Homo sapiens: one gene and its partners. The protein of the gene in region 5 purifies or fractionates together with the protein of the main gene of each other region. This does not show direct contact. Each region holds a gene or a part of one and is shown on either strand. Other genes may lie near its edges.

Region 1 (4,173 bases), on a different chromosome or scaffold from region 5:
TTCTGTCTCTTATTTTGTGTAATTTTAAATATACTTTTTGTCTCTTCCATCAGTGAAGCACACTTTCTATTTCCTTTCCATTTTTGTGTTTCTTCCTTTCGCATTTCATGGTCCCCTTTTCCTTTCTTCCAGTTTCACTTAGTCACTCTAGAATCATCTTTGACTCATTTTTGACTCATCTTTTTCCTTTATTCTCTTTGTTCAGTCTATTATATTTTTTTTTAGAATGTCTCATATTTTTTACTTTCCATTTTTCAATACTATAGACACTCATCATCTCATGCCTGGATTAATATAATAGCCTCTTAGCCAGTGTTCTTTTCTCAAGTTTTTATTCATTCTTTTTGCCAGACTAAGTTTACTAAGATACTGATTTAACTTCTATGTGCCTGACACACAGGAGGTACTTGGTATATGTAGAAGAAATGATAAATAATTCTCCTTTGCCTACCAAATCAAGTCCCAGGCTTCTTTAATTGGCTTTCCAGAGCTTTCATGATCTGGTCCATTCTACATGTTCAATATTGTTTGTTATTGCTTCTTAACAAGCATCTTCCATTCTATTTTAGCCAAAATTCTTTGTTGCCATTAGCATAATTCTTAGTTCTTTCTGCCTTTTGGTTTTGTTTTCCTCTACATCCCTTCCCATACTTGAAATGCTTTCTCTCAATGTACTTGTACTAAACAGGGTTGGACCAGGAAAGAGGTGGCACGGTGGAATGGTAATTGAGAAAAGATTAATGAACTACGTAAATGAAAGCTATTTACGTAGTTGTAGACAGAGGTAAGGGAAAACAACAAGGGATGGTGAAGCACCCCACAGATAAAAGTAGTGGGAGAATGATTAGCACACCTGTACCTGAAGAGATAAGGGAATGAAGCAGATGCTGGAATCTGGAAAGAGCTGTAGCTATAGCTGCAGAAGAAAGCCTAAGGCAGAAGCTGTGGGGTTTTTTTTTCTTTTTCTTTTTTTTTTTTAAAGAGACTAGGGTAGGGGGTGGGTTTTTATTTTTAAGAGATGGGGGCGGTGGGGGGTCACTGTGGCGCAATTATCGGTCACTGCAGCTTTGAACTCCTAGGCTCAAGTGATCCTCCAGCTTCAGCTTCCTGAGTAGCTAGGACCAGAGGCATACACCATCATGCCTGGCTTATCTTTTTATTTATTTAGAGACAGGGTCTTGCTTTGTTGCCCAGAATAGTTTTGAACTCTTGGCTTCAAGCAATCCTCCTGCCTTAGCCTCCCAAATCACTAGGATTAGCTGTGATCTTTGGTAAAGATATAGAGGTATTACCAATTTGTGGTTAGTAGGGAGGGAGCTGGTAAAATACCTCATTCTCTTTCTCTTTATAGCCTACTGATCTACTAGTACCTCCCACAGATTTAACCCAATCAGGAGCCAGAAGGCAGAGAGTTTGCTATACCCACAGATATCAGCCACATAGGGCACAGAGCAGTGTGGAGAAAGGGTGGGAAGTGAATCAGGAGTGATAAATGGAGGATATCCACTATACTACTCATTCTTCAAGGCCCAGCTCAAGGTCTACCCCCTTCATTCAAACTTTGGTTCATTCCTTCGATATATACTAATTGTTCTCTTTATGCCAGACATCAATTTGTCTGCCTGCTTTTCTAAGAATAGAGCCCTATCTCTTGACTCACGTGGTTACTTTAGCAGTCATTTTATGCAGTGTACATATCCAAAGGTGATATTTGAACTAAGACCAATGAGTCCTTTCTCCTGGATTTTGAATTTGGAGTTAGGATATACTTGGGTGAGTTTTTCCCTGGGTGGCTAAAGCTGTAACATGTAGAACTTTGAAGGTATTAGTAGCCCTGTTTTCTGCTGCTCCTCTTTCAGCTTCCTTTTGGGTTTCCTCCTATCTCAGTTGACTTTATTTCTCAGCCTTATATACTGGCTTCTTCTCTAATCTATGAATTTTTCTTAGGATTGAGTCATTTTCCATTTTCTATCCTCTAATAACTCTCTATGTGATAGTACCTGTTTTTACAGCTTAAATACGATTTTAAAACTACAAAAAATGTTTTTATTTTACGAAAAATAGAAAATACTAATCACATAATGAAGAAAATAAAAATTTCCTATAATCTTGCCACTCTAATAAATCAACTTACTTCTACAAGAGTCAAAAGTTTGTTGTTTATCCAGTTCTTAAGACCTTTAAAAAAATTAAGTAGTCAGGATTCTTAATTGCACACTGATTTAGTCAGCAAAGGAATTTATTGGAAGGGCATTGGTTATCTCGGACTTGAAAAATGATTACAAACAAGGGAGGCTATGCAGTATCCAAGACTATAGCATAAAACCAGCTTCCACTTTTGAATACTGTATATCACAGCTTATACCATCATTGCTGACCATAGTGGATGCTGCTGATGCTGCTGCTGCGGTATCACTCACCCATAGAAGCTTGAAGTTACTACACTTCCCTGACTATCTACCAACAGATGGATTTGCAGTAGTCCTTGTTTTTTTGTGATAACTAATCCAATATCCAAGACAGGTGCATGAGATTAGCAGAGCCTAGCCTCATGCTTATAAAGCTGGTACCTGGCATCTTTGCTTCTCTGGTAGGCAGCCGGCTCTTATAATGTAGAAAAACTGGCCGGGCGCGGTGGCTCACGCCTGTAATCCCAGCACTTTGGGAGGCCGAGGCGGGCGGATCAGAAGGTCAGGAGATCGAGACCATCCTGGCTAACATGGTGAAACCCCGTCTCTACTAAAAATACAAAAAAAATTAGCCGGGCGTGGTGGTGGGCGCCTGTAGTCCCAGCTGCTCGGGAGGCTGAGGCAGAAGAATGGCACAAACCCAGGAGGCGGAGCTTGCAGTGAGCCGAGATCGTGCCACTGCACTCCAGTCTGGGCGACAGAGCAAGACGCCGTCTCAAAAAAAAAAAGAAAAGAAAAGAAAAGAAAAACTGCCCACTGCCTACCTGAGAAGCAAAGATGCCAGGTACTAACTTTATAAGGGAGTTCAGATACTGTGTAGCCGAGACCGAAAATCAGATTCTTGAGTATTTAATATAGTCAATATACACAGAAGAACAGCACAATCAATTGCACACTAATTCAAAAGTTGGTATTTCAAGATTTTAATGTGTTTAATTGGTATCTGCTAAACTCAATGAACATGTGACTTCATAAATGAAGACTGCTTTTACATCCTTCAGTTCCACCCTCCACAACACTGCCAGAGTTATTTTTCTAAAATGCAAATTTTGTTATGTCATTCTTCTACTCAGAATCCTTCAGTGGTTAATTCCCCATTTTGTTTTATAGTATAACATTCAAACTCTGTAGCGTAACGTACAAGTCCTTCTCAATACTTGAATCCTGCCAAATTTCTAGACACAACTACCAATATTCTACTCTGTCCCCTGAAATAACACATTAGCTCCAGTCATATCTTATTAGTTCTGTTTCCCTGAAAAATATCGTTCTCTTTCATGTTTCTGTGGCTTTGTGCATGTAGAACCTTTTGCCTGGAATGCCTACCCCTTTGTTGTCTTCTTTGCAAATTGATCTTTAAAGATTCAGTTCAAATAGCACCTTCACATGTAATACCGTTTTGATACAGTTTATGTTTTTTATTCATTTTTCTAATATAGCACTCATTACATTGTATTGTAATTATTTCTTACATAATTTTTCCTATTAGAGGCTAATAAATTTGGGAATTGAGATTTCCTTGTTATCTTTTTATCTCAGAAGGTATTTGTTTAATAAATAATGGAAACACTGTACTTCTGGTTAGTTAGTTGATTTTGTTAGTACACTCCTTTTAAGATTAAAAGTCATGCAGTCAATCTCTTTATGATTGATTAACTTTGCCTGATCCACAACCGCAGATTATGTTCCCACCTTGGCTAATCTTGCAAGGGAACTTGCAAGGGAATTATAACAAATTATAATTATAGGCTTAAGGATGAACTTTGAAACTGTCAGGAAAGTACCTTGTTTTAGTGAAATATGTGTACTGAATTTTCTGTTTGATATGTTTCTTATTAAGGAACTAAAAAAAGCAGCCTCAGACTTGATAAAGTCCAAAGTCACATGTCAATATAAGATGGGAGAAGAAAACATCAATCTAACAATTAAAGAACAAAAATTTCAAGAACTTCAAGAAAGACTCAACATGGTATTTTATTAAATG
Region 2 (4,173 bases), on a different chromosome or scaffold from region 5:
AAAATGAGCCGAAGGCTCCCCAAACCCTGCCTCGGATGGAAGAGTACCAGGAAAACCTTTCACCTAAGCAGAGTCCCCTCTTTTCCTTAAAAGGCTGGAAACCCCACCCTCCTCAGTTTCTAGATCAAAGACGAGGTAGATGGAAGGAAGCCGACTCAAGGCTCTGGCCTTGAAAATTCATTTCTAGGCACGGGAAGGGGTCACTGAAGTGGTGCCTCAAGGGTGGCGGGCCCAATGCTGAGCAGCCTTGCTGCCCACTGACTCAAGCCTCCATCCTTGTGTCCAGAACAAACTCACCTTAGGCCGGGCGCGGTGGCTCACACCTGTAATCCCTGCACTTTGAGAGGCTGAGGCGGGCAGGCGGATCACTTGAGGTCAGGAGTTCGAGACCAGCCTGGCCAACATGGTGAAACCCCGACTCTTCTAAAATATACAAAAAATTAGCTGGGCGTAGTGGTTGCGCGCCTGTAATTCCAGCTACTCAGGAGACTGAAGCACCAGAATCGTTTGAACCTGGGAGGTGAAGGCTGCAGTCAGCCGAGATCACGCCACTGTACTCCAGCCTGGGCAACAGAGTAAGACTCTGTCTCAAAAAAGATTTAAAAATGGCTGGGTGTGGTGGCTCACGCCAGTAATCCCAGCACTTTGGGAGGCTGAGGTGGGCAGATCACTTGAGGTCAGGAGTTCTGAGACCAGCATGGCCAACACAGTGAAACCCCATCTCTACTAAAAATACAAAAATTAGCTAGGCATGGTGGCAGGCACCTGCAGTCCCAGCTACTTGGGAGTCTAAGGCAAGGAGAATCACTTGAACCCAGGAGGTGGAAATTGCAGTGAGCCAAGATCTCGCCACTCTACACCAGCCTGCAAGACAGAGTAAGACTCTGCCTCAAAAAAAAAAAAAAAAAAAAAAAAAAAAAAAAAATTTTAAAAAAAGAACAAACTCACCGTTTTCTCTCCAACTGGTTAAGAACTGAGTGACAGGCTGGGCATGGTGGCTCACGCCTGTAATCTCAGCACTTTGGGAGGCTGAGGCGGGCAGATCACAAGGTCAGGAGTTTGAGACCAGCCCAGCCAACATGGTGAAACCCCATCCCTACTAAAAATACAAAAATTAGCCGGGCTTGGTGGCACATGCCTGTAGTCCCAGCTACTCGGGAGGTTGAGGCAGAAGAATCACTTGAACCCAGGAGGTGGAGGTTGCAGCGAGCCAAGATCGTATCACTGCACTCCAGCCTGACGGAGCGAGACTCTGTCTCTAACAACAACAACAAAAAGCTGAGTGCTAAAGGAGAGACAGCAAATAAAGGAAACCAACTGCAATGGACCACGTCTGTGTCCCCCAGATTCACAGGGTGAAATTCTAACCCCCTGGGGTGACGGCATGGGGTGGGGCCTTTTGGGGGGTGGGAGGTCCTGAGGGGGAAGCCCTTGGGAATGAGATGAGAGACTTTACAGAACAGGCCACGGAGGCCTTCCTCCAGGGAAGGCTGGACCGAGGGGCTGTCCACTAGGAGGGAGGTGGGCCGTCACCAGACAGTCTGCAGGCACCCTGACCTCAAGCTCCCAAGCTCCAGAACTGGGAGAAAGAAATCTCAGCTGTCATAAGCCACCCAGCCTATGGTATTGTGTTTTTTTTTTTTTTTTTGGTATTGTGTTAAGCAGCCTGAACACACTAAGACACCAAACTGATAAGAATACTCACTTTATCCCAGAGATCTTCAAACTCTTCTTGTCCAAAAGACCCATAGACTGCCCAAAAAAAAGGAAGGCTGCAGTTGAGTCAAATCATGTCAGTGTCTCAGAAACACACCTAACTTTTTACAAAAGGAAACAAGAGTCTGATGTGAGTTTGCCTAGGGGGCAGTGCACACAGAGCGTGACAGTGAACCCATCCACCCACCCGCCACCCAGAACTGCAGTTCTGAAGCCCACTGCATTAACTCCCATCCAGGACTTCCCACGGCTGCGCCAGGTGGGCAGGAGTGACTGAAGAGCTCTGCCCAGAGCAGGGGCAGTTAAAAAGGCACAGGAGACAGGCCTTTCCTATGCATCTGTGAAACCTCCTCCTCCTCTTCTAGCACAAATAAGGAAAGGCACCACACCCCGGTTACAAGCAAGGACCGGACGGGGCGTTTGCCATCACTGAGGCCACTTACAGGAGTTTCATAGATGCTAAGCGTATCCAGGGTCATTCTGGCAAAGAATTTGCCATCATGGCTCCACCTAAGAAAAACAAAAGTGCCAGGGTATTCCCATGAAAAGACAAAGGCTACAGAGCTCGTTACAATGGTCCACTTACTTAAAAATAGGCCAATGGGCTGAGCTCTCACAGTGAAAACCCCTCTTCTTGTGCCCCGTAAGGATGTCCCAGATGATTATGGCCTGAGGGTCATCCTGCGTGTCCATCAGGGGGCTAAAGGTCACCAGGTACCTAGAAGAGAAGGGCAACACTGTACACTATCCTCCTCTCACGAGAGGATCACAGTCTGTCTGTGCGGCCAGAACACGCCGTCAGAACTCGCGGAACCAGCTCTCTCCCCAAACCCCACACTGCCCGGCCCCAAGAGACCCAAGCGGAAGCGGGAAGCAGCGGCGCTTGTTCATTCTGGTGTCAATACGCTGCAGGCGCTCCGGTTTCTCCAAGATCAGCACAGAAGATCTCACCGATCCCACACAAGGCTGCTAAGTGATCCAGAGGGTGGCGCAGTGTGGAACTCTATCTTTACCCATGTTTAATAAAGACTAACAAGTTAAAAAAATACGGCTGGGCGCAGTGGCTCACACCTGTAATCCCAGCACTTTGGGAGGCCGAGGTGGGTGGATCACCCAAGGTCCGGAGTTTAAGACAAGCTTGGCCAACCATGGCCGACATGGTGAGACCCTGTCTCTACTAAAAATACAAAAATTAGCCGGGCGTGGTGGCAGGCACTTGTAATCCCAGCTACTCAGGAGGCTGAGGCAGGAGAATAGCTTGAACCCGGGAGGTGGAGGTTGCAGTGAACTGGTATCGTGCCACTACATTCCAGTCTGGGCGACGCATGAAACTCAGTTTCAAAAAAAAAAAAAACAAAACAAACAAACAAACAAACAAACAAAAAAACAAGTCCCATCCAGTTCGAAAGCCAGCACAGGTCTGATAGAAACTTCAGAGCCTGGGGGCTCCTCCCAGCCATGATTTACCTGACTGCTGGCTTGTCTGGAGCTACTGCACCTGCTTACTCAGTTCACACAAAGTGTGTAACAGACGGTCCCTTACAACACCAGAGGGGAAGGCAGACACAACCCATGAGGGCGAAAACAGAGCGGCCCCAGCTCGCCTCGCACTGCCTTCCACAACTGCCCCTTTCCCTAGAGTGGCCCCCGTTCGCCTCACACTGCCTTCCACAACTGTCCCTTTCCCTAGAGTGGCCCCAGCTCGCCTCACACTGCCTCCCACAACCGCCCCTTTCCCTAGCAGGCCTCCGACAGCCGGATTAGCTAGATCAAAAATCACGGCTCGGCCAGGTGCGGTGGCTCACGCCTGTAATCCCAGCACTCTGGGAGGTCAAGGCAGGAGATCACTTGAGCCCAGGGGTTCAAGACTACCTTGTACAACAAAGTGAGACCCCCATCTCTACAAAAAATAAAATTAGCCATATGTCATGGCGTGTGCCTGCGGTCCCCGCTACTCAGGAAGGCTGAGGTGGGAGAACCGCTTGACCTGGGAGGCTGGGGTTGCAATGAGCCTGCAATGGTGCCACTGGGTGGCGCCAAGCCTGGGTGATAGAGGAAGGACAATTTATTATCTGTAAAATACGTGACCTTAGACTAGATCCTGAACTGAAGGAAAGTAAGTATTATACAGAACATTATTAGGTCAAGTAACAAAATCAGAATATGGCAATACATTGAAGTATTAAATGAATGGTAAATCCCTGAAGTCAGTACCCACACTATGGTCACACTAACAAAATCCTATTTCTAGGAATACACATTCAGGGCTAAAGGGACATGTTATTTCAACTCACTCCCAAATGGCTCAGGAAAAAATATCTGTATAGGAGATGATGACGTAAATGCAACCAAATGTGAGAAGATCTCAGTAAAAAGCTTATTAGCGTTCTGCATACTCCCGTATTTTTCTACTAAGTTTGAAATGCTACAAAATGAAAGATCACCTGTAGAAGGCTG
Region 3 (4,173 bases), on a different chromosome or scaffold from region 5:
AACAGTCATGCAGGGCCGGGCATGGTGGCTCATGCCTGTAATCCCAGCACTTTGGGAGGCTGAGGCGGGTGGATCACCTGAGGTCAGGAGTTCAGGTCAATCAAGAGACTGAGACTATGCTGGCCAACATGGTGAAACTATGGTCTCTACTAAAAATACAAAAATTAGCTGGGCGTGGTGGCGTGTGCCTGTAATCCCAGCTACTCTGGAGGCTGAGGTAGGAGAATCACTTGAACCTGGGAGGCAGAGGTTGCAGTGAGCTGAGATCGTGCCATTGCACTCCAGCCTGGGCAACAAGAGCAAAACTCCATCTCAAAAAAAAAAAAAAAAAAAGAAACAGTGATGCAGATAAACATATCAGAAACCTCAAGAAAGTAAGTGTTGACAGGCCCTTGAAACTCCCCTTGTGTGAGAATGATAAAGCAATGGTGAAAGGTAGGGCTGAGACATCAGGGGGTACAAACTTCCAAATCAAGAGAATTTGCAGAATTAAAATTCATACCACCTACCTGTTCTATAAATATTGACAGGAATACTGCAAAGAGGAGTCTCAATTGACTGATGGGTACAGAACAAGGAATGACAGTCAGTAGGAAAAATACGTATTATACTGGACCGTGATGCATATATTTCAAAGTGTGTTAAGAGATCATGAGGCCTTAAAGAGATTTTTACCAAGAAATTTTACCTGATAGTTCCTATTTGAGGTTATAATCAATTCTGCTACTGACATAGAATCACTGACATAGACCCTCTAGCTACTGACAAGAGAATCAATATTACTGTGGTAAGAGGGAAAAGAGTCTAGAGTGAGGGAAAAAGGAGAAAGAAGAAAATATGATTATGCAAAGAAGGAGGAGGAATGCTATATGAAGATAAGAGGAGGATTTCATCAGGAACTTGGGTTGCAGTTTTTGCTCTGCCACTAACATCCATTGGACCTCAGCCAGTTTTCTACATTTTAGTTCCTTCCAATCTTCTACTTCTGCATACGGAAAGTTATGTTTACTCTTTTTCTAAGGTGTTCTGAGATCCTCAAATTAGGATTTCAATTTAATATATCTCACATATACATTAATATATGATGAGTCCATTATCTGTTAAATTAGTAGGCATCAGAACAGCATGGCACACAGGAAGAACTCAATAAATGTTAGTGATTTTTATTCTTGATAATATCATACCACATGGCCCTCTATCCTTTTGATGATATAGACAAATTAATCACAAGCCCTCACTATTACCAACCCCTTAGATAACTACGAAAAGTAACATATAACAACACTTTAATATTGGATAGTTGGAGGCATATACCTTAAAGCACCAGATTTTTTTTTTTAATAACAATTTTGAATAAAAAGCCTTTCTAAAGTGGCTTATACCACTCACAATCAGGACACTAAACATAATGCCACCTTCCACAGCAATTAAGGGTCATGATAATAATCAATTTTAAAAATAATTCGGTGACATCTTTTAGGTCATTCGAGGTATATCAGGCTGTTTAATTCTACCCTAAATGGCCCCAAAGTGCGGTGTTTGGATTAGTGTTGATGCTCATTGATTTTCTTTGTTCTGAAAGATGAACGGATCTGCTGCTGCTCATTCTTAACAATGCCTGACTCCAGTGGTCCCCATTCTCCATCTTGCTGCAGTCTTGAAACCAAATAAAAAAGCATTTTGAAATCGTGTTAAGAATGAATAGGCTGGGGGCAGTAGAGGTGCCAAGTTCCTAATGTTTGGCTTAGAGATAGATGATATGTCTCATCAGCAGGTTAATTAGGTCCTTGCTTAAAACATTATTTTTGTTTCACAGCTGTGTTTTCTGAATAAGAGGTGGTTGGGGAGCTGAGTTCTAGACAGATGAGATTTCCTTGAACTTCTATGTTGCAGATTTCATATATCTATTTTACAGATCACTGTAGAGAAAAGCACAACTTTGCTCCTTTCAGAAGGAAGTGTGCTGTGTTCTGACCATTGATTGCTCTTCAATGTCTGGTCTCTTTGTTTGTGCTCTCCTCCCCACATCAGGCTGTGTCTTGCATTGCCCTTCAGAAGCCCTGCCAAAGATGGCCTCCAGCTCGAGATCTGAGCAGAGCGCTGCAGTCTGTCCCCTCCCCCAACCACGCAGCTGCTGCCGGCTTAGCCTGAGGGAACCGGAGAGCGGCACGCCCAGCTCCAGCTGGGGTCTCTCCTGGAGGAGCTAAGACAAACGCTGAGCATCGTCTTAGCTCGTCTGAGCATCGCAGCCCGTGGCTGGAAGGATGCCGGGTGGAGTAAGAGAAATGAATGGCCACACTAACATCTGCAGTGGTGAAGAAGAACGACAGAGCTGTGGATTTCAGCACGTTTGGGGGCCCTGGGTCAGGGAGGCAGTAGTGAGTGCCCCACAGTCTGATTGAAAGAGGCTATTTAGAATTACTGCTCTGCATAATCAACTTGAGTGGGGACGGAGGATTTTTATTTGTGGTTCACCATGCGTGCTTTATTCTCACTCCTACCTTTCCTTTGTCCCCATCTTTTTCTTTCCTCCACCACACTCGAAAATCCTGTATTATACGTATCTCCGTAAACTACTTTACTGGAAGAAGTGGTTTAGATCAATGTACTCCAAAGTCAGTCTGAGGACCAACAGGATGCAGCACTTTTATTGAAAAATGCATATTCCCGGGCCCTACCTGTGAACTGCTGAATCCATATCTTTGGGAGTGGGCCTGATAATTTTTTTAAGCCCCCAATTGACCTTAGAGTGTCACTGGGTTTAGGATCCACTAGTTTAAATTTTTTTCTATAAAGATGCTATCATGGTAGCCCAGGTGACAGTAATACAGTAAGATAGGGAGGGGCAAACAAAACAAAATGAAACAAAAACCAGGTGGAAGAGCTTAAAAAAGATCAAATGTAGCTAATTTTAGAAATGGATCTATCAAGCTATGGATTTATATGCAGCCACTGTCACCTCCAGTCTCCAAGGGGCCAGCCCCTTCCTGCTATTTAATTAGGCTGTACTCCAATCTCATAATGGAGAAAAAAGAGAAGACTTGGCTTGTCTCCCTGGAGAGCATTAACCTGCGGTGATCTTGATCATTCAGCAAGGTCTTTCAAGGAAAGCTTCAACTTTCCAAGACTGACCACAGTAGAGGTCTGAGACCCTGAGTACCCTCCAAGAATGTCTTTGGACATCTTTAACAGAACTAGGACTCTAATGGTGCCGAAGTGGCTATGTAGGCACCAGCATTGCCCTATGTCAGAAATGGAAACCCCATCAGCTTTTTATGCAGAGGGGAGTTGCATTTGGCTTTTGAAGACAATAGCCTTAGCTCTTCCTAATCTCTTCTCTTGCCTGATTCAGACTCTCTCATCCACTATTGTGTACTTACTGTGTCACCGTGAATCATTTTTTACCCTTTCAAAAGTGTAAGAAGCTTTCTCTCCTTAAATAGGCTATCAGCTATCTGGGGCAGAGAAGATGGGACTTTAATGGGGCCTTCCTATGTTTCATAGAGGGTGCCAAGTTTGAAAAGAAAAATGGCCCTACCACTAATCTCTGTAGCAGAAGAAGGAGAACAGCCTCCCATTACTGCAGTGAAAGGTGGGGATGAGATGAGAGGGCAAGAAAACAATGGCTAAATCTCACTGTAGAAAGGGAGGCTTTTCACCTTGGTCAGCACTGCTAAGATTGTTAGAACAGTCAGAGACACCCTTGTGGCATCAGGCCGTTAGGATCTGCAGGTAAGACTTGAGCTCCACCTTAGCCTTAGGTCCCAAGGAGTAGGGAACCAGCTCTCTGTTGTCTGACCTCCTCTTCCACTCCCATCAGCAGGTCCTCTGTGGCTCTAAAGGCTCAAGCTGATGGGGGCAGCACCGCAGAGCTGCAGATGCTGCAGTTTCTCTGTTGTTGTTTTTTGTTTGTTTCCTGTAGACCATGTCTGGATGACGCTACCATTGTCTAATGATGAAAGCCTTTTACAGCAAACAAGCCAGGCAAAACTGTCACTACTTCTTAGAATGTATGGGCTATAACAAGCAGAGAAAATGGAGAAGCCCAATTCAGCTGGCAGCTCTGAGTAAGTTATCCTTTTTTTGTAGAAATACTGGGCTAGCCCTCCAGAAGACCACCTAGCTCGTACTTGGAGGCTTCTAGAAGAAAAAAATGAAGTCTCAATTAGCCAA
Region 4 (4,173 bases), on a different chromosome or scaffold from region 5:
GGGTTTCACCATGTTGGCCAGGCTGGTCTTGAACTCCTGACCTCAGGCGATCCGCCCCCTCGGCCTACCAAAGTAGGCCTGGGATTACAGGCTTGAGCCACTGCACCCAGCCTATTTAATTTTTGAGACAGAATCTTGCTCTGTCCCCCAGCCTGAAGTGCAGTGGCGCAATCTCTGTTCACTGAAACCTCCACTTCCCGGGTTCAAGCAATTCTCGTGCCTCAGCCTCCCGAGTAGCTGGGATTACAGGTGTGCGCCACCACTCCCGGCTAATTTTGTATTTCTAGTAGAGATAGGGTTTCTCCATGTTGGCCAGGCTAGTCTCAAACTCCTGATCTCAGACAATTTGTCCATCTCGGCCTCCCAAAGTACTGGGATTACAAGTGTAAGCCACCATGCCCAGCCAAAATGTATTTTTAAAGCCCCAAAAGAAACACCCAAAACGAACTCTGAACTCAACTATTTATGACCATAAAATGAAGTACTTGTTTATTTAAATTTAAAATTTAAAGAAACAATTCAAAATTTTTTAATAATTTGAATAAATGGTTCCAAATATAAAGTAGGAACACAGGACTGTTTCAACTAGACAGAATTCCAAAGGTAAAGGTATTCATTTGCTGAAAGAATTGTTGGCATCTCTCTACCCTTCCTGACGTAATCCTCACGTTTAAAAGTTTATCTACCCTATTGATAGTCAAAATGGTTTATAAAAAAGGCATATCTGTTTCTTGCCTGAAATTCAGTCCCCTTAACGGTATATAGTCACACAACTTTAGTGTCACCAGCAGCATTAATGAATATTTTTATCATACACAGACATGCACACAAACTCAACAGTGTTTAAATGTGTACAGAGTCTGAAAGGACACATCCCAATTTATTAATAATGATTTTATCTGGGGAGTACAAATGTTAAGAACTACCATATTTTATAGGTACTTGAATTATTTGAATTTTAAACATTATATTGTAATTGAAAAAATATTTAAAATAAAAGTGATCAAAGTAGTTGGAACAGAATCTATTATTATCTAGATTTCCTTTTCTATCTAGAAAGGAATAACATCAATATTTGACTTAATTTTCAAAGTATAATTATATAAAATCACCATTTACAATATATACATTTATCTTAAGATACACCTATGCATTATTTTTTATTCAACTTTATAACTGCTCTCCCATTACAAGTATGCTACATATAAATCAACAGAAGGGCTATCAGAAGGCATAGAAAGAATAATAATATGCAGCCAGACACGGTGGCTCACGCCTGTAATCCCAGCACTTTGGGAGGCCCAGGTGGGCGGATCACGAGGTCAGGAGTTCGAGACCAGCCCAGCCAACATGGTGAAACCCCGTCTCTACTAAAAATACAAAAATTAGCCAGGTGTTGTGGCAGGCGCCTGTAATTCCAGCTACTCGGGAGGCTGAGGCAGGAGAATCGCTTGAAACTGGGAGGCAGAGGTTGCAGTGAGCCGAGATTGCACCACTGCACTCCAGCCTGAGCGACAGAGCAAGGCTCCATCTTGGGGAAAAAAAAAAAAAAAAAGAAGAATATGCATAAGTACTATCTAGATTTGAAACTGCCCTTTACCCAACATTTGAAAAAAAAAAAGGTGCAATAATAATATTCAGTTGTCACCTAAAAAATAAGTGTCTCAGTCCCAAGCGTGATTCTGGAAAATTCTTTTTTTCTTTTTTTGAGACAGAGTCTCACTCTGTCACCAGGCTGGAGTGCAATGGCATGATCTTGGCTCACTACAACCTCCGCCTCCTGGGTTCAAGTGATTCTCCTGCCTCAACCTCCTGAGTAGCTGGGATTACAGGCGAGCGCCATCATGCCCGGCTAATTTTTGTATTTTTAGTAGAGACGGGGTTTCACCATCTTGGCCAGCCTGGTCTCAAACTCCTGACCTCATGATCCACCCGCCTCAGCCTCCCAAAATGCTGGATTAAATGCGTGAGCCACCGCACCCAGCCGATTCTGGAAAATTCTAAGGCATTTACGACATCAAGAGGTATTATGAAATTACAAAATATTGTGTATTTTAAATATATATATACGTTAAAAAGCCACACAATTCTTTCAGGAACAGAGAAAGTATATCAAAATGAAACAAGTTTCTCAACTCCTGAAAGGTTGGTACACTTTGTAGTAAAGCAAGGAAGTGTCATGTAGCCTAATTTCATTTAAGTAACTCCAAACTGACAAATTCTGTTCTTCACCTAAATCTGTCCTTACCTCTAGGAAAACAAAAAAACAAACAAAACTAGAAACTTAATGAAATATAACACTAAGAAAAAATAAATTAGCCCAAATATTTATGGTGGATAATGTACCACCTATCCTGTCTACCATGAAAGAAAACCTACAAATAACTGATCTACAAGAAATTTTTTTTTTTTTTTTGGAAAGAGTGTTGCTCTGTTGCCCAGACTGGAGTGCAGTGGCGCAATCTTGGCTCACTGCAACCGCACCAGGTCTACAAGAAATCTGAATGACATATTTTGCAAAGCCAGAGTTAGTCTTTTAAGTATTATATAAATAATGAAGATGACTGTCTGCAAAAAATTAAGTTCAATTACTTTGTGGTCTGGATAAAAGAGATTAAAAATGTAAAATATTATGGGTAAAATATTGTTATTCCATTTTATAGTTCCTAAGATTCAAAGTTACTAGGTTCCATGAATGACTTGTACTAAGCCAAAGACTAATACACCTACTTATTGTTTTATTAATATAAGTAATAGACGATCTAATCAATGAATATCCTACTTAAAAATGAAAGAAAAAGCTCATGTCCCTGGCTATCATGCAGTCAGCCCATTTAGTGAAAACATACAGGCCGGGTGCAGTGGCTCACGCCTGTAATCCTAGCACTTTGGGAAGCCGAGGCGGTGGATTGTCTGAGCTCAGGAGTTCGAGACCAGCATGGGCAACGTGGCGAAACCCCATCTCTACTAAAAATACAAAAAATTAGCTGGGCGTGGTGGTGCGCACCTGTAGTCCCAGCTACTTGAGAGGTTGAGAATCACTTGGACCCAGGAAGCAGAGGTTGCAGTGAGCTGGGATCACACCACTGCACTCCAGGCTGGGCGACAATCTGTCTCCAGAAAAAAAAAAGAAAGAAAATATACAATCCCCATGTATATATTTGATTCTTAATCAAATGAGAAGTTCTAAAATGCTGTGTTGGTCCTATTTGGGGATTTTATAATTTTTATGTATTTAGAAAATAAAGCTGGAGATCTGCTGATGAAAGCTAAAAAGTATGGAACTCCTTCAGCTGAAAGCCTGCAGGTAAGTTAATGGAGGGCAAGCACTGACTTTCATTTATCTTTGTACACTCAACATACATACAAGTTCATAGTATACACTGATTTTGCTGAAATAATTGCATTCATTAATCCAACAAGCATTTACTTGGTACCTACTATGTGCCAGGCCCTGAACTAGGAAATAAGGTATTGATTAGTGAAGAAAATAGGGTTCAGTCTCTGTCTTGATGGACTTTATAATATAGTGGGGGAGGCAAACAAATAATTAAACCAACAAATAAGATTATTAAAAATTGTGATAGATGCCGTGAGGGACATCAACAGGGTACACTGATAGAGGGAACCTACTTAGAATGGTCAGCAAAGTTTTCTCAAACCCTTACAGGGTGGTGGTATTTAAGCCTAAACTTAAACGAGAAAGAACCAGCTATTTGAACAGCATAAAGTCTGATGAGCTATATTCTAAACTAACATAACACAGCTTAGCTCACATTTGGTAATTCACAAAGTAATTTCTGCACTTTGAAATCTGTAATCTTCTAAACAAGCTCTGTCATTTTCTAGTCCTCTCCAATCTAAACATCAACAGTTCCCCAGTACTCTTTACATATGGTTAGTATTTATCCCCAAACTGAATTTTGTAGGAACATCTTTTTTTTTAAATTAAGAATATCTTCGGCCAGGCGCAGTGGCTCATGCCTGTAATCCCAGCACTTTGGGAGGCCGAGGAGGGCGGATCCCCTGAGGTCGGGAGTTCAAGACCAGCCTGACCAACATGGAGAAACTCTCTCTCTATTAAAATACAAAAATTAGCTGGGTGTGGTGGCACGTGCTTGTAATCCCAGCTACTTGGGAGGCTGAGGCACGACAATTGCTTGAACCCAGGAG
Region 5 (4,173 bases):
CTTAACCCAGAATTCAAACTCACAAATCATTCATTTATATTACAGCTTTAGTACACAAAATGATAGTCTTGTGTCTTTCAGAAGGATGATGCAACCCTGTGAAGAACTTATTGCATGGCACTCACAGACCAAATGAACCCTTATTTGTCCTAATTATGTTTTCCTTACAAATTATAAATAGATTTTAAGTCCCACTTTGATATCATAAGAACTCATTAACACTTTAAACAATGGATAAGGCGGTTTTGAAAACTGGATGCTTACTCTATATCATCCAAATATAAATCCTAAGGAACCAGAGTTTCTATGTGGAAGAGCATTTTACTTCAATCCTAAATTATATAACAAAAACTAATTTAAGAACATTGAAGGAGACATCACAGGAGAAAATGCAAACTATAAGAAGAGGCAGAAGTAAAAACAGTATAGGTAAAAGAGTGAGGACTTATCCACTAGAGAAAATTAACCAGAGCTAGGTTTTACTCCTATCACATTACTATTACTCATAATAACAATCCTCGGGAAAGTTCTACGATAAATCTGAACACCCCACACTTCCCTCTATGCTACAGACACTAGTCTAACAAGAATTTTGTTGATTTGTTTCATCATTTGAAACCTTCCAAAAACCTCTCCAGAATTAGAACATCTACTGCTACTAATAGTGGCAACCACTGTGTTATATAAAATAAACAAATATCTTTAAACTGACATGAGTAATCTGTGTTAAATTGAAATTTACAAGTGCTTAGTTTCCTTAGAAGCCTGGATAAAATATGTCTTTGATCTTCTGAAACTGAACATAGTTATTATCGCTTTTGAAAAACTCAGTAAGAATAGGGTTTAATCAAACAAGGTTGTGATTACAAAAAAGAAAAAAGGAAAAAAAAAAGAAAAGGAAAATCACTGAGAACCATTAAACTATCAAGACCTTCTGGACAAATTTCATCTTCTGAGCAGTTGTTAGGAACGCCTTATAGTAAGTAGATAAAAACAAAGTCTAGATCCCTTAAAAGAGACTCAAGCCCAGCTTATTTTCCATCACCATAAGAGTACAAGGAACAGGTAATGTCAATTTTATTTTAAGTGTGCTCAGGATTTCAAAAGATACTCAGAAACTGGAGCTTCTAACTGAACCCCTGAGCACTAAGAAACTTCACAGGCTACAATCACTATTCAAGATCCTTATGACAATCATTCGGGAGCTGCTATGAAGACTATAAACTCGAAACACAAGTGAAGAAAAGATTATGAAAATATTGTAAAGAAAGCAAAACATTATTAACTGAACATTACTGTGAAATCACTTTGCTTCACAGCCAGACTCTCATTACCAGGGAACACTTAGTGGATACTGCTGCCTCGGGAGTGTATTCTCAGCATTAACAGGGAAGCAAAGAATCTAATAAGAGGCTATGCAGTTATTCACATAAATTAATCAACAAAAGTAAACTGGGGATGAAAAGCAGGCTCTGCACACACCACATAGTACTCACGGACTTTAGTGCCCATGTGACATTAAACTACAGTGTATGTTTCAGATATTCAAAAAATAATGTCTATGTTACTATGAAACTTGGACCTCCTACAGAGATCCTATTAGTCTCCTTAAGTAGTTTCATCAGTATCATCTGTGAGTCAAACTTTATATTTAAATGGCAAAACAGGCTCATCAATAATTAGGCCTTGGAACATACCCAGATTAACAGCATAAAATAAATGATTGTTGTGATACAACTCTACAGGCCTGGATTTATACAACAGAATACCCAATAAAGTCCTGTATGACAGGGGAATGGAAATGCTTTAATATTAACATAAAACAAAACTTTAAATGACACAATAAAGCTATAAAAACAGAAACAGGTCCTCCTCCTCACAACACATACACATGAGGCAAAACAAAAATAGCATAGAGCTACATAACTTAGACTTAAAGGGGATTTGCTGTCCATGTAGCCCAACCACCTCACTTCACAGATAAGGAAGCTAGAGCCCAGAAAAGTCGCTCATGATGACCTAGGCTGGATTTGAGGCCCTATGTCTCATTCTATCCTCACTAGACCTGCCTTCTCTCAAAAAATAAGGGGGGGTCGGGGGGAAGCCACTTACATTCTTAGCTGACTCATCAAAGGATCTAAAAATCTTAGGAATCTTTTTTTTCATTTTCTCTCCAGGACTGAGAGCTAAACAAACTTTTGTTGCAATAGGTCTCCAGAAAACCCTAAATTTTACAAGTGATCACAGGACTGGAAACCTGTACAGAGCCACCATAATGTCACTGCAGAAGCACATAGCCGTTCATTTTCAAATCCTTTTCACATACATTACTCACCAAGAACCACAGCTCAGGAGAGAAATGGGTCTGAACTTTGCATCAGATCAATGGGACTGTGCCAGAATCGGAAGAGCCTCAGACATGAAGCAGACCAAACTGTAATATTCAAAAGAAAAATAAATTTCCTGCAAGCCGCAGGGAGCTTTCCCCAGAAGGTCTCAGAGTTGATGAGAAAGAAAAGGCTCTGTGGGTGCTTATGACTATGAATTCGGTTTTGCCATTCTTAGAAAGGTTGTTAGATATATATATATATATATAATCTATATCTATTTTTTTTTTAATTTAAGAGACAGGGTCTCTGTCACCCAGGCAGGCTGCAGTGCAGTGGCAGTCATAGCTCACTGCATCCTGGAACTCCCGGGGTCAAGGGATCCTCCCGCCTCAGCCTCCCGAAGTGCTGTAATTACAGCCATGAGCCACTGCGCCCAGCCTGTCAACTACTTTTAGGTTTAGTTTCCCCAACAAACCAAAGAGAAAATCTCACCCAGGAACCAAAAGGAGGAAAAGCTTTGGGAAAGGAGCATGCTGGGAAAGGGGCATGCATGCCATTTACTGAGCTGAGGGACCGCAGGAGGTCCTGCCTCCTTCCTGGAGCAGCTGCACCCTAGGGCTGCATGACACGTGCTCTCTCTACATAACCCGGGGATGCCAGTCCTCTCTGAGCTGACCATGAGGGTGTGTTGCCAAAGCTGAGTTTTCTGGCCTTTTCCTTTTATATTTAAAATCTTTCTAATATGGTAGGATTGCTAAGGGTGTCAGCAGGAAAAACAAGGGCTAGACCAAAGATAAAGCAGAATAAAAGATTAAACCAATAAGTCAAAAGACTTTTCTATATTAAGTAGAAAGTATGCCAAACAAGTTACTTTAATTCCCAGTGTGACAGAGTTGGACTGGCTTCCTTTGTTGGGCACATAGTAAGCAAAAGACAATACTGCTCCTATTTTTTATATACATGATTTATTATTGTACAGACTGGGTCTCACTATGTTGCCCAGGCTAGTCTCGAACTCCTGACCTCAAACGATCCTCCCGCCTCCACCTCTCACAGTGCTAGGATTACAGGTGTGAGCTACCATGCCAGGCCATACCACTGCTTCTAAACCACACAATCACACAACCACTTATGACAGTTACCAACACTAGGCCAAACACAGACATTAAACAAAATCAGAATTTTATAAAACTTCAGAGATTACCAAACTTTTGAACATTCAATTCACAGATTAATGATATCACAGATCTAAATGCTTAAGTTTCAAAAGGGAAAGATAAGAAACATCAAGTTCTAGAATACATAAATATATTTTGTTTCAATATAATTCTCTAAAGTGCTATTCAAACAAACAAGTACATTATAAAAGCCCAATATTATTGGTATTAAAATTACCAGTAAAAATACAAAATTAACAAATTTCTTTCTAGTTAGTGATACAGATTCGTCAAATTACTTTGAAACAGCTTCGGAATTGATAATTTTTAAAAACATCCCAAGACATTCTATCACTTCAATAGCCAAATAAACTTAAAGCAATTCATCTGTCACTGATGAAACACATATTGACTGATTCATGTTTATCCACAAAACATAAAAAAAAAAAATCTGCCTTCTCTTTAAAGATGATTGAAAATGGAAACCAAAATGACACAGTATGTAAAAGTGCTTGATAAACATTTTAATTCTAAGATATTGTAAGCCAGCTAACAGTAAAGTTTACACAAAGAGAACGGTGAAATACAAGTAATGCTCTAACGTGGTAGGGCAAGAGTAGGAAGGCGGTTAGCCGTAATTAATTTGGAGTCTAATCCTAGTTCAACCATTAAGTACTAATAACCTC
Region 6 (3,181 bases), on a different chromosome or scaffold from region 5:
TTGCTATCTTGAAGAGGTGATCTCAGAAGTTATTCAAAAGACCTGATAAAACAGACCCTACTGCAAGGGTGGGCTTGCCTTCTGGGATAGAGAAACAGCAATGACCCCAACCCCTTGTGCATTAGTCCAGGTAGAAGCATGGGTCCAGAGAAAGGACCTTGGAAACTTCACTCAGACAGGACAGAAGTCCAGGGACAGAAAAAATGGAAACCAAGGTGCAGTTGTTGTTAGACCCGATAGCAAAGAATCACAGAAAGCCTGTCATTCTACCCTCCCCGACAGCCAAACACACCCAATGGTTTCCTACCTGTCCACCACCCAGAAAAAGCAGGCAAGCAAGTAAACTGTCTTAAATGAGGAAAGAGGGGAAACAGGCCAGAGGGTGACCTCTTATTTATGCAACAGCTACTGCCTATCAGGTAGGAGGACTGGCTGTTTCTACCCTTTCTGCACACAGGAACAGGAGAGGGAAGCTAGGCGCCAAGGAGAGGGCCGACCTGGCAGGTATGGTGGGTTATGGCAGGGCATGGAAGGGGAAGGCAGAGAAGGGGCAAAAGCACAGGGGAGGGGGCAGCCTCGTACCTCGCCCTTTCCTCTGGCGGACTGGGGCATAGTAGCGGATGCTCACCACCTTGGTGGTGCCCCGAGGGGTGGTACACTTGCGGGACTGCCGCACCACATTGGTGAAGGAGAGTTGCATGTGTTCCTCAGCTGTCTGCAGCCCAAAAAACTTAGTGTTGAAGAACATGAGGGTGTTGAGGAGGACAAAGGGCGAGTAGACCCCCAGTTGCTTACACTCCCAGAGGTGCTCCTCCTCCACTCGAGAGAACACCGTATCTACAATGGTCAAGGGGGAGAGGCCAGTCAGGAGGGAGTGGCTACCCAAACCCAACCACTTCCCATCCCATGTGCCCTGCTCATTTCCCACACAATTCTCATTTGGTGAGTAACCTTTGTATATAAAACACTGTCACTTCGCTACACTTGCTACACTACACAGTGGGACTGGGCTTTAAAAAATATATACTTTCCACACCTGCATTTGGAACGCCTCTCACCACCCTCAAGTTGTAGACAAGTAAATGTAAACCTTGAGGAGTCCCACGATTTCTTGCTTTCTTTCTTTACTTACCACCCAAACCCAGGCCATCTTTTTCTGGTCCTAGAGATAGCTCTTCAGACCTAAGTCTTGATCCCCATCTCACGTTCAAGAACAGGCGCTCCTGTGCTCCTTTAACTCTAAACCCTGAGGCATCCAGCTACACGCTCCTGCCCTCGGGCCCTTTGTGAAGAGTGGCAGACCAAACAGCACAGGACTCTCGGGATGGTGGATTGGAAGAATGGAGAAAGCGGGTAGGGGTTGCTACGTCCCTGTTCCTTACTGTTGGGGAGGAGTGTGGGCTGCCAGGTACTCAGAGACTTGTTGAGTTCTTGAACAAAAGTCAGGTAGTAAAGGTCCGTGAAAATGTTCACCATCCGGTTATTTTCCAGCAAGTACTGGGGAAAGAAAAACAGACACACCTAAGGCTAGACTGTAGGTCCTAGAAGAAAGATAATGATGCTGAAGCCCCCAGGTATGGTGTCCTTGATCATTAGGAGACGATGGGAAACAGTTGCTTGATTAGGTGGCCTCGAGTGCTTTCCCCCAGGTATACCCACAGCTCTGCGCTACTCAGGCTTTGCTCGAAGAGGAGGAGGCTTGGAGGAGATGTTCTTTAGAAGCCCACACCTCCTTCTCAGGTAATACATGGTTGACTTCTCCCAGGGGGAACTAAACATTACCCCAGCACTCAAGGATCCCAGCTCCACCCATCCCTCCCCTCCTAGAATGGGCTTAAAGATTACAAAGGGGACCTGGATAGCAATGAAGACTGCTCCTTGGCCAACGGTCCTGGAATGCAGTTTTGATTTTAGAAGAGTATTGATATCTCATGTTCTATTTGGAGTAGGAGATTAAAGGCAAGCTGCCTGCTTCAGGTAGGGGACAAGATGAGGAACAGGGAGTGCAACAGAATAACTGCTTTTTTTTTTCATTAAAAAAATATTTTTTGGGTAGATGGGTATCACTTTGTTGCCCAGGCTGGTCTCAAACTCCTGGCTTGAAGCGATCCTCCTGCCTCAGCCTCCCAAAGTGTTGGGATTACAGGCGTGAGCCACCGTGCCTAACCCAGAATCATTTCTGTTTAGACCCTGCCTGCTGTGTTAAGAGTGACAGGAAGTGAGGTGGTGCACAAGAGGTACCTGCTGGATGCCAAGACACAAATAGTAGATACTGTCAGGTTCATATCGTTCACCATTGGGCCGAGTGATTTCTCTCACAAACTGGGCCAGACCGTAGTTGAGCTCAGCAGCTGAGCAGGCGAGAATATCCTCTTTGATACGCATGGGTTTGGCTGCAGTGATATGTTGTGCAGGGACAGGATTAAGAAAAACTCTACATGGAGAATTTCACTTAGCTCCATCACCATTAACCCCTCCATCCCTTAGTCATGCCTAGCTCCTGAACAATTACAGAAAGAGCCCCTAACCTGGAACCTAGACAGCATTTCCCTTTAATCTACAACTCCTCCCCATCTTCACAGGGCATCCTTAAGGGATCACACCCTTATCACTTCTAGACATCTTCAGCTGAATCACAGGCCCAGCCCCTTCTCCCCTTTCCCCTCCTCCTCCCTGTCCCTGCCTCCCCACACCCCCCATCCCCAAGTACTTACGGCCAAAGCGCAGCTCATCACCCTTGCTGGTTTCTCCATTGGCATATTTTGACTGCACCCAGCACTTCCAAGCATTGACACCATATGAATAGTTGAGCCCGGTACAACTAGGCTGACTGCTCATGGAGTCCCGGGAGCAGCTTTCGGAAAGCACCAGCCGCTTTTGACCCTGGAGGGGAAGAGAAAGCAGGGGCATGGCAGAGGTAAGGCCAGAGGCAAGGTGAAAGCTAGTCAGCACCATATTTACTGCTGGCCGGGGCAGGGGCTGATGTAAGCACACAGCAAGCTTCCATAGCACAGAGCCCCAGGAACAGCTTTGATGACCTTGTGAGATGGGGGGAGAGCAAAGTTTGGCTTTATCTCAGTACTTCTAGTGTTGGAGAAAGGAGGTTAGGGAAGGTCAAACTATGGTTGCTGGCTTGGCTCTCGCATCATCTCCCCTTTGGGCCTCCATTCTTCTTTTGTAC
Region 7 (4,173 bases), on a different chromosome or scaffold from region 5:
CCCAACCAATCCCCACTCGCTCAAGAATCACACGGTGTTCAGCCCCCTCCTCCCTGAGACCCAGGAGTCCACGACCCCAGGCCCTCCTTCCTCAGCCACAGATGCCTGGGGTCCCCAGTCCCACTTCTTCTAGGCTTAGTCCTGGCCCTCTCCTCTCTCAGACCTAGGATGGTCCCCCAGCCCCCTCCTCCCTCAGAGCCTGAAGCCCAGTTCGAGACCCTTCTTCCCTGAGACCTCGAAGTCTGGGGTCCCAGCTTCTTCAGGGTTTCAGGTGAATGGGCCCCCGTCTCCTTCCCAACCCCACATGGAAGGCCAGGTAAGGTAACGGGTTTATTCACAGTGTCATTTACAGGCAGCCCCCACCCCGCGGCATCAGATCCCGGCGGGAGGCCCGAAGTCGCTAGAAGGTGGGGACGGCCTTGGAGGCGGGGGGCCGGGCCGGATCCCCGGGCGTCCCCGGCGTCGCCTCCTCGTCCAGACCCCGGCGGCCCTTGCCGATGGCCAGGCGGGGCCGGCCGCGGTTCAGGCCGTCCAGGAGCGCGCAGGCCTGGCAGAGCGCGCGGCTGGCCAGCGCCCCACAGCGGGAGCAGGCGCCGGGGCGCGGGGGCCGCGCGGCCGGGGCCAGCGCCAGGCGCTCGGCCGAGTGCACGAGGTCCAGCACCGCGGACGGCCGCGCCGCCTCCAGGCGCTTGAGCAGGTCCCGGGCGTGGCCGCGGAAGGCCTCGGGCGCGTAGACGCACTCCTCGGAGAAGTAGTCGAGGCGGCGGAAGTGCGCGTACAGCACCACCTCCTTCTGCGAGGCGAACTGCAGCGGGCGGCAGCGCGGCAGGGCGCCCCCCTCGCCGGGAGAGCCCAGGCCCCCGCCCCGGGCCAGCCGCCCCGCGTCGCCCCGTAGGAAGTTCATGAGCACGGTCTCCGCCATGTCGTCGGCGTTGTGACCTGGTGGGGAGAGAAGGGAGCGGGTGAGGTGGGGCGCGGAGGGCGCTGCTGGCCAGGGAGCCCCCCGGGGAACCAAGGGTCCACCAGGACCCAGAGAGAGACTGGGAGGAGAGACCCACGGAGACCCAGGGCACAGTGGGGCCGCCAGGACCCAGAGAGAGACGGCGACGGGGAGAGCAAGCCATGGAGACAGACCCCCAAACATGGTGTGACAGCCAGGATCCAGAGACAGGGAGGGGGAGAGAGAGCCATGGAGACCCCTAGGGCACTGTGGGCAACCAGGACGCAGAGAGAGACGGGGAGGGCAAGAGCGAGCCATGGAGACCCTCCGGGAACCGTGAAGCAGCCAGGTGCAGGCTGCAGGTGGACACAACAAAAAATCAAAGAGAAACATAAGCTCCCCTGGCGCAACTTGGGCGTGCCTTCATGTACCACCCGCCTACTGCATAGCGGACCTTATGCTAGTTGCCCTTTCATATAGGGAGTAAAAGTGCATTATGCTGCTAATAACCTTATCAGCCTCAGTTAAAACCGTAATTCAAACTGTACACAAAAATCAGAAGGCATTTAAGGCATTTAACCGAGATTCTCAGGAGAGCTGGAGGGGTAGGCAGGCTGCTGTCTCCCCCACCGCCTAGGGAATCCATGGCCTAATTCTGGGAACCTGTTAATATGTTTGGTTGTAGGACAAAGGGGAATTAAGGTTGCAAGTTGAATTGGGGCTGCTAATCAGCTGACTTTACAATAGGGACAGAATGGTGCGTTATCCAGGTGCGCTCAAGGTAATCACAAAGACCCTTAGAGGGGAGGAGGGAGGCAGAAAAGGGAGAGATAGGGCCATGGAGACCTTTGAACATAGTGGGCAGCCAGGACCCAGAGAGAGATGGGGAGGGGAAGCCTGAGCCATGGAGCCCCTCTGGCACCATAGGACAGCCAGGACCCAGAGACCGGGAGAGGGAGATGGGGCCATGGAGCCCCCTGGGCACTGTGGTGCAGCTAGGTGGTGGCTGGAGGTGGACACAGCAGGAATTGAGAGGGGAACACACACAAGCTCCCTGGGGAACTTGGGGATACCTCATTTGCCACCCGCCTACTGCATATGGGGGGTGTGAGGGCAGAGGCAAGGTTAGAGTGATGCAAACGGTGTAGGACTCAAACTGCCATCCTTGGCTTTGAAAATGGAGGAAGAGCCGGGCACAGTGGCTCATGCCTGTAATCCCAGCACTTTGGGAGGCTAAGGTGGGAGAATCACCTGAGGCCACGAGTTTGAGACCAGCCTGGCCAACATGGCAAAACCCCCATCTCTACTAAAAATACAAAAATTAGCAGGTCATGGTGGCAGGCACCTGTAACCCCAGCTGAGGCATGAGAATCTCTTGAACCTGGGAGGGAGAGGTTGCAGTGAGCCGAGATCACTCCACTGCACTCCAGCCTGGGCTCCACAGCAAGACTCTGTCTCAAAAGAAAAAAAAGAAAAGAAAATGGAGGAAGGGACCATCAGCCAGGAATGTGGGCAGCCTCCGGAAGCTGGAAAAGGCAAGGAAATGGACCCCCTTGCCCCAGAGCCTCCAGGAGAAAGGCAGCACTCTTGACACTTTGATTTTAGCCCGGTGAGACTTCCCAGACTTCTATCTACAGAACTACAAGATAATAAATCTGTGTTGTTTAAAGCTGTGAAATTTGAAGTAATTTGTTACAGCAGCCAGAGAAAACAACTGGTTCTTGACACAGAGCCTCTGACAACCCAGACTGTAGTTTTTTTATGGTTTTTTTTTTTCATTTTGTTTTATTGTGCGTGTGTGTGTGTGTGTGTGTGTGTGTTTGAGACAGGGTCTCACTTTAGTGCCCAGGCTGGAGGACAGTGGCACGATCTCAGCTCACTGCAACCTCTGTCTCCAGGGCTTAAGTGATCCCCCTGCCTCAGCCTCCAGAGTAGCTGGGACCACAGGTGTGTGCCACCATGCCCAGCTAATTTTTGTATTTCTATACAGACGCAGTTTCTCCATGTTGGCCAGGCTGGTCTTGAACTCCTCTGAGCTCAAGTGATCCACCTGCCTCGGCCTCCCAAAGCGGCTGGGATTACTAGCATGTGTCACCACCCCTGTAATCACTGCAGTGTTTTTGTGTTATCTTTGTTTAGAAGTAACAGTGAGAAATATTTACACACTGGTCACCATGAAATTGAAGCTAAACTTGTTCTGTGTCTTGTCAAGTTATACTTGAGTCTATATCAGTGGTTCTCAATCTGGGATGAGTCTGCCCTCCTTCCCTCCCCCAGAGACATTTGGCAATGGCTGGAGACATTTCTGTGTGTCAGGTTGGGGGTGGGGCACTACTATTAAATAGCATCTAGTGGGTAGAGGCCAGGGATACTGCTAAAATCCTATAACACAGAGGACAGCTCCCTAAAAACAAACTATCTGGCCCCAAATATCAATAGGGCTGAAGTTGAGAGGCCCTGGTCTATATGGTAAAAAACCTCCAAGAACTTGGCTCTAATTGTGTTTGTAGTAATGGTTACCTCCCAAAGACCTGCCAAGCCCTGTGACCTTGAGATTGGGCATGTTTGCTACTGCAAACGACATCTCGTTGAATGTTTATTGACTTAAAGTTGTAAACCACATTAATTAGGGGAGACTGGATTTGCTCCACACCTTGTCATTACAAACCCACTTAAGAGCTCCCAGTTTTGTAATAATTATTACAACAATTATTATACTACGCCTTTGAAAATGGAGTGTATAAACAAAGGGTAGAAATCACCTTGCAAGTCAGGGATTTTTCTGGAAGGCTTCATTACTTTTGGAAGTACAATTAATAAGTGATTCTATCAAATTAACTTTAAAATCCGAGGCAGCCTCTCATTCTTTTTTTTTCTCCCCCAGCTGGAATCTTGCTCTGTCACCCAGGCTGGAGTGCAGTGGCGTGATCTCGACTCACTGCAACCTCCGCCTCCCGGGTTCAAGCAATTCTCCTGCCTCAGCCTCCCGTGTAGCTGGGATTACAGCCGCCCACCACCACACTCAGCTAATTTTTGTATTCTTAGTAGAGACGGGGTTTCACCATGTTGGCCAGGCTGGCCTCGAACGTTTGACCTTGTGATTCCGCCTGCCTCAGCCTCCCAAAGTGCTGGGATTACAGGTGTGAGCCACTGTGCCCGGCCGAAGCCTTTCATTCTTTCCATACACTGTCTGCTCTTGTATGGTAAGGATTATTCTTCCCATTTTCAATCAC

Evidence for each region.
Region 1: the proteins of GAN (region 5) and CCDC73 purify together in Homo sapiens (affinity purification with mass spectrometry, with the first as the bait; one study listed by BioGRID). This does not show direct contact.
Region 2: the proteins of GAN (region 5) and EIF3B purify together in Homo sapiens (affinity purification with mass spectrometry, with the first as the bait; one study listed by BioGRID). This does not show direct contact.
Region 3: the proteins of GAN (region 5) and INA purify together in Homo sapiens (affinity purification with mass spectrometry; 3 studies listed by BioGRID and IntAct, with this or other methods). This does not show direct contact.
Region 4: the proteins of GAN (region 5) and VCPIP1 purify together in Homo sapiens (co-immunoprecipitation; 3 studies listed by BioGRID and IntAct, with this or other methods). This does not show direct contact.
Region 6: the proteins of GAN (region 5) and ZMYM3 purify together in Homo sapiens (affinity purification with mass spectrometry; 2 studies listed by BioGRID and IntAct, with this or other methods). This does not show direct contact.
Region 7: the proteins of GAN (region 5) and CTU1 purify together in Homo sapiens (affinity purification with mass spectrometry; 2 studies listed by BioGRID and IntAct, with this or other methods). This does not show direct contact.

Annotation. Positions count from the first base shown.
Region 1 is NC_000011.10:32,654,829-32,659,001, reverse strand, and holds part of CCDC73 (coiled-coil domain-containing protein 73), read left to right. Parts: intron 1-4,029; coding exon 4,030-4,158; intron 4,159-4,173.
Region 2 is NC_000007.14:2,364,578-2,368,750, reverse strand, and holds part of EIF3B (eukaryotic translation initiation factor 3 subunit B), read right to left. Parts: intron 2,435-4,173; coding exon 2,303-2,434; intron 2,227-2,302; coding exon 2,160-2,226; intron 1,818-2,159; coding exon of another isoform or gene 1,794-1,817; exon of another isoform or gene 1,779-1,793; intron 1,753-1,778; coding exon 1,706-1,752; intron 1-1,705.
Region 3 is NC_000010.11:103,279,909-103,284,081, reverse strand, and holds part of INA (alpha-internexin), read right to left. Parts: intron 1-4,173. UniProt on the Homo sapiens protein: Class-IV neuronal intermediate filament that is able to self-assemble. It is involved in the morphogenesis of neurons.
Region 4 is NC_000008.11:66,656,800-66,660,972, forward strand, and holds part of VCPIP1 (deubiquitinating protein VCPIP1), read right to left. Parts: intron 1-4,173. UniProt on the Homo sapiens protein: Deubiquitinating enzyme involved in DNA repair and reassembly of the Golgi apparatus and the endoplasmic reticulum following mitosis. Necessary for VCP-mediated reassembly of Golgi stacks after mitosis.
Region 5 is NC_000016.10:81,317,630-81,321,802, reverse strand, and holds part of GAN (gigaxonin), read right to left. Parts: intron 1-4,173. UniProt on the Homo sapiens protein: Probable cytoskeletal component that directly or indirectly plays an important role in neurofilament architecture.
Region 6 is NC_000023.11:71,241,588-71,244,768, forward strand, and holds part of ZMYM3 (zinc finger MYM-type protein 3), read right to left. Parts: intron 2,884-3,181; coding exon 2,715-2,883; intron 2,394-2,714; coding exon 2,242-2,393; intron 1,498-2,241; coding exon 1,383-1,497; intron 838-1,382; coding exon 583-837; intron 1-582. UniProt on the Homo sapiens protein: Plays a role in the regulation of cell morphology and cytoskeletal organization.
Region 7 is NC_000019.10:51,098,201-51,102,373, forward strand, and holds part of CTU1 (cytoplasmic tRNA 2-thiolation protein 1), read right to left. Parts: intron 940-4,173; coding exon 401-939; 3' UTR 1-400.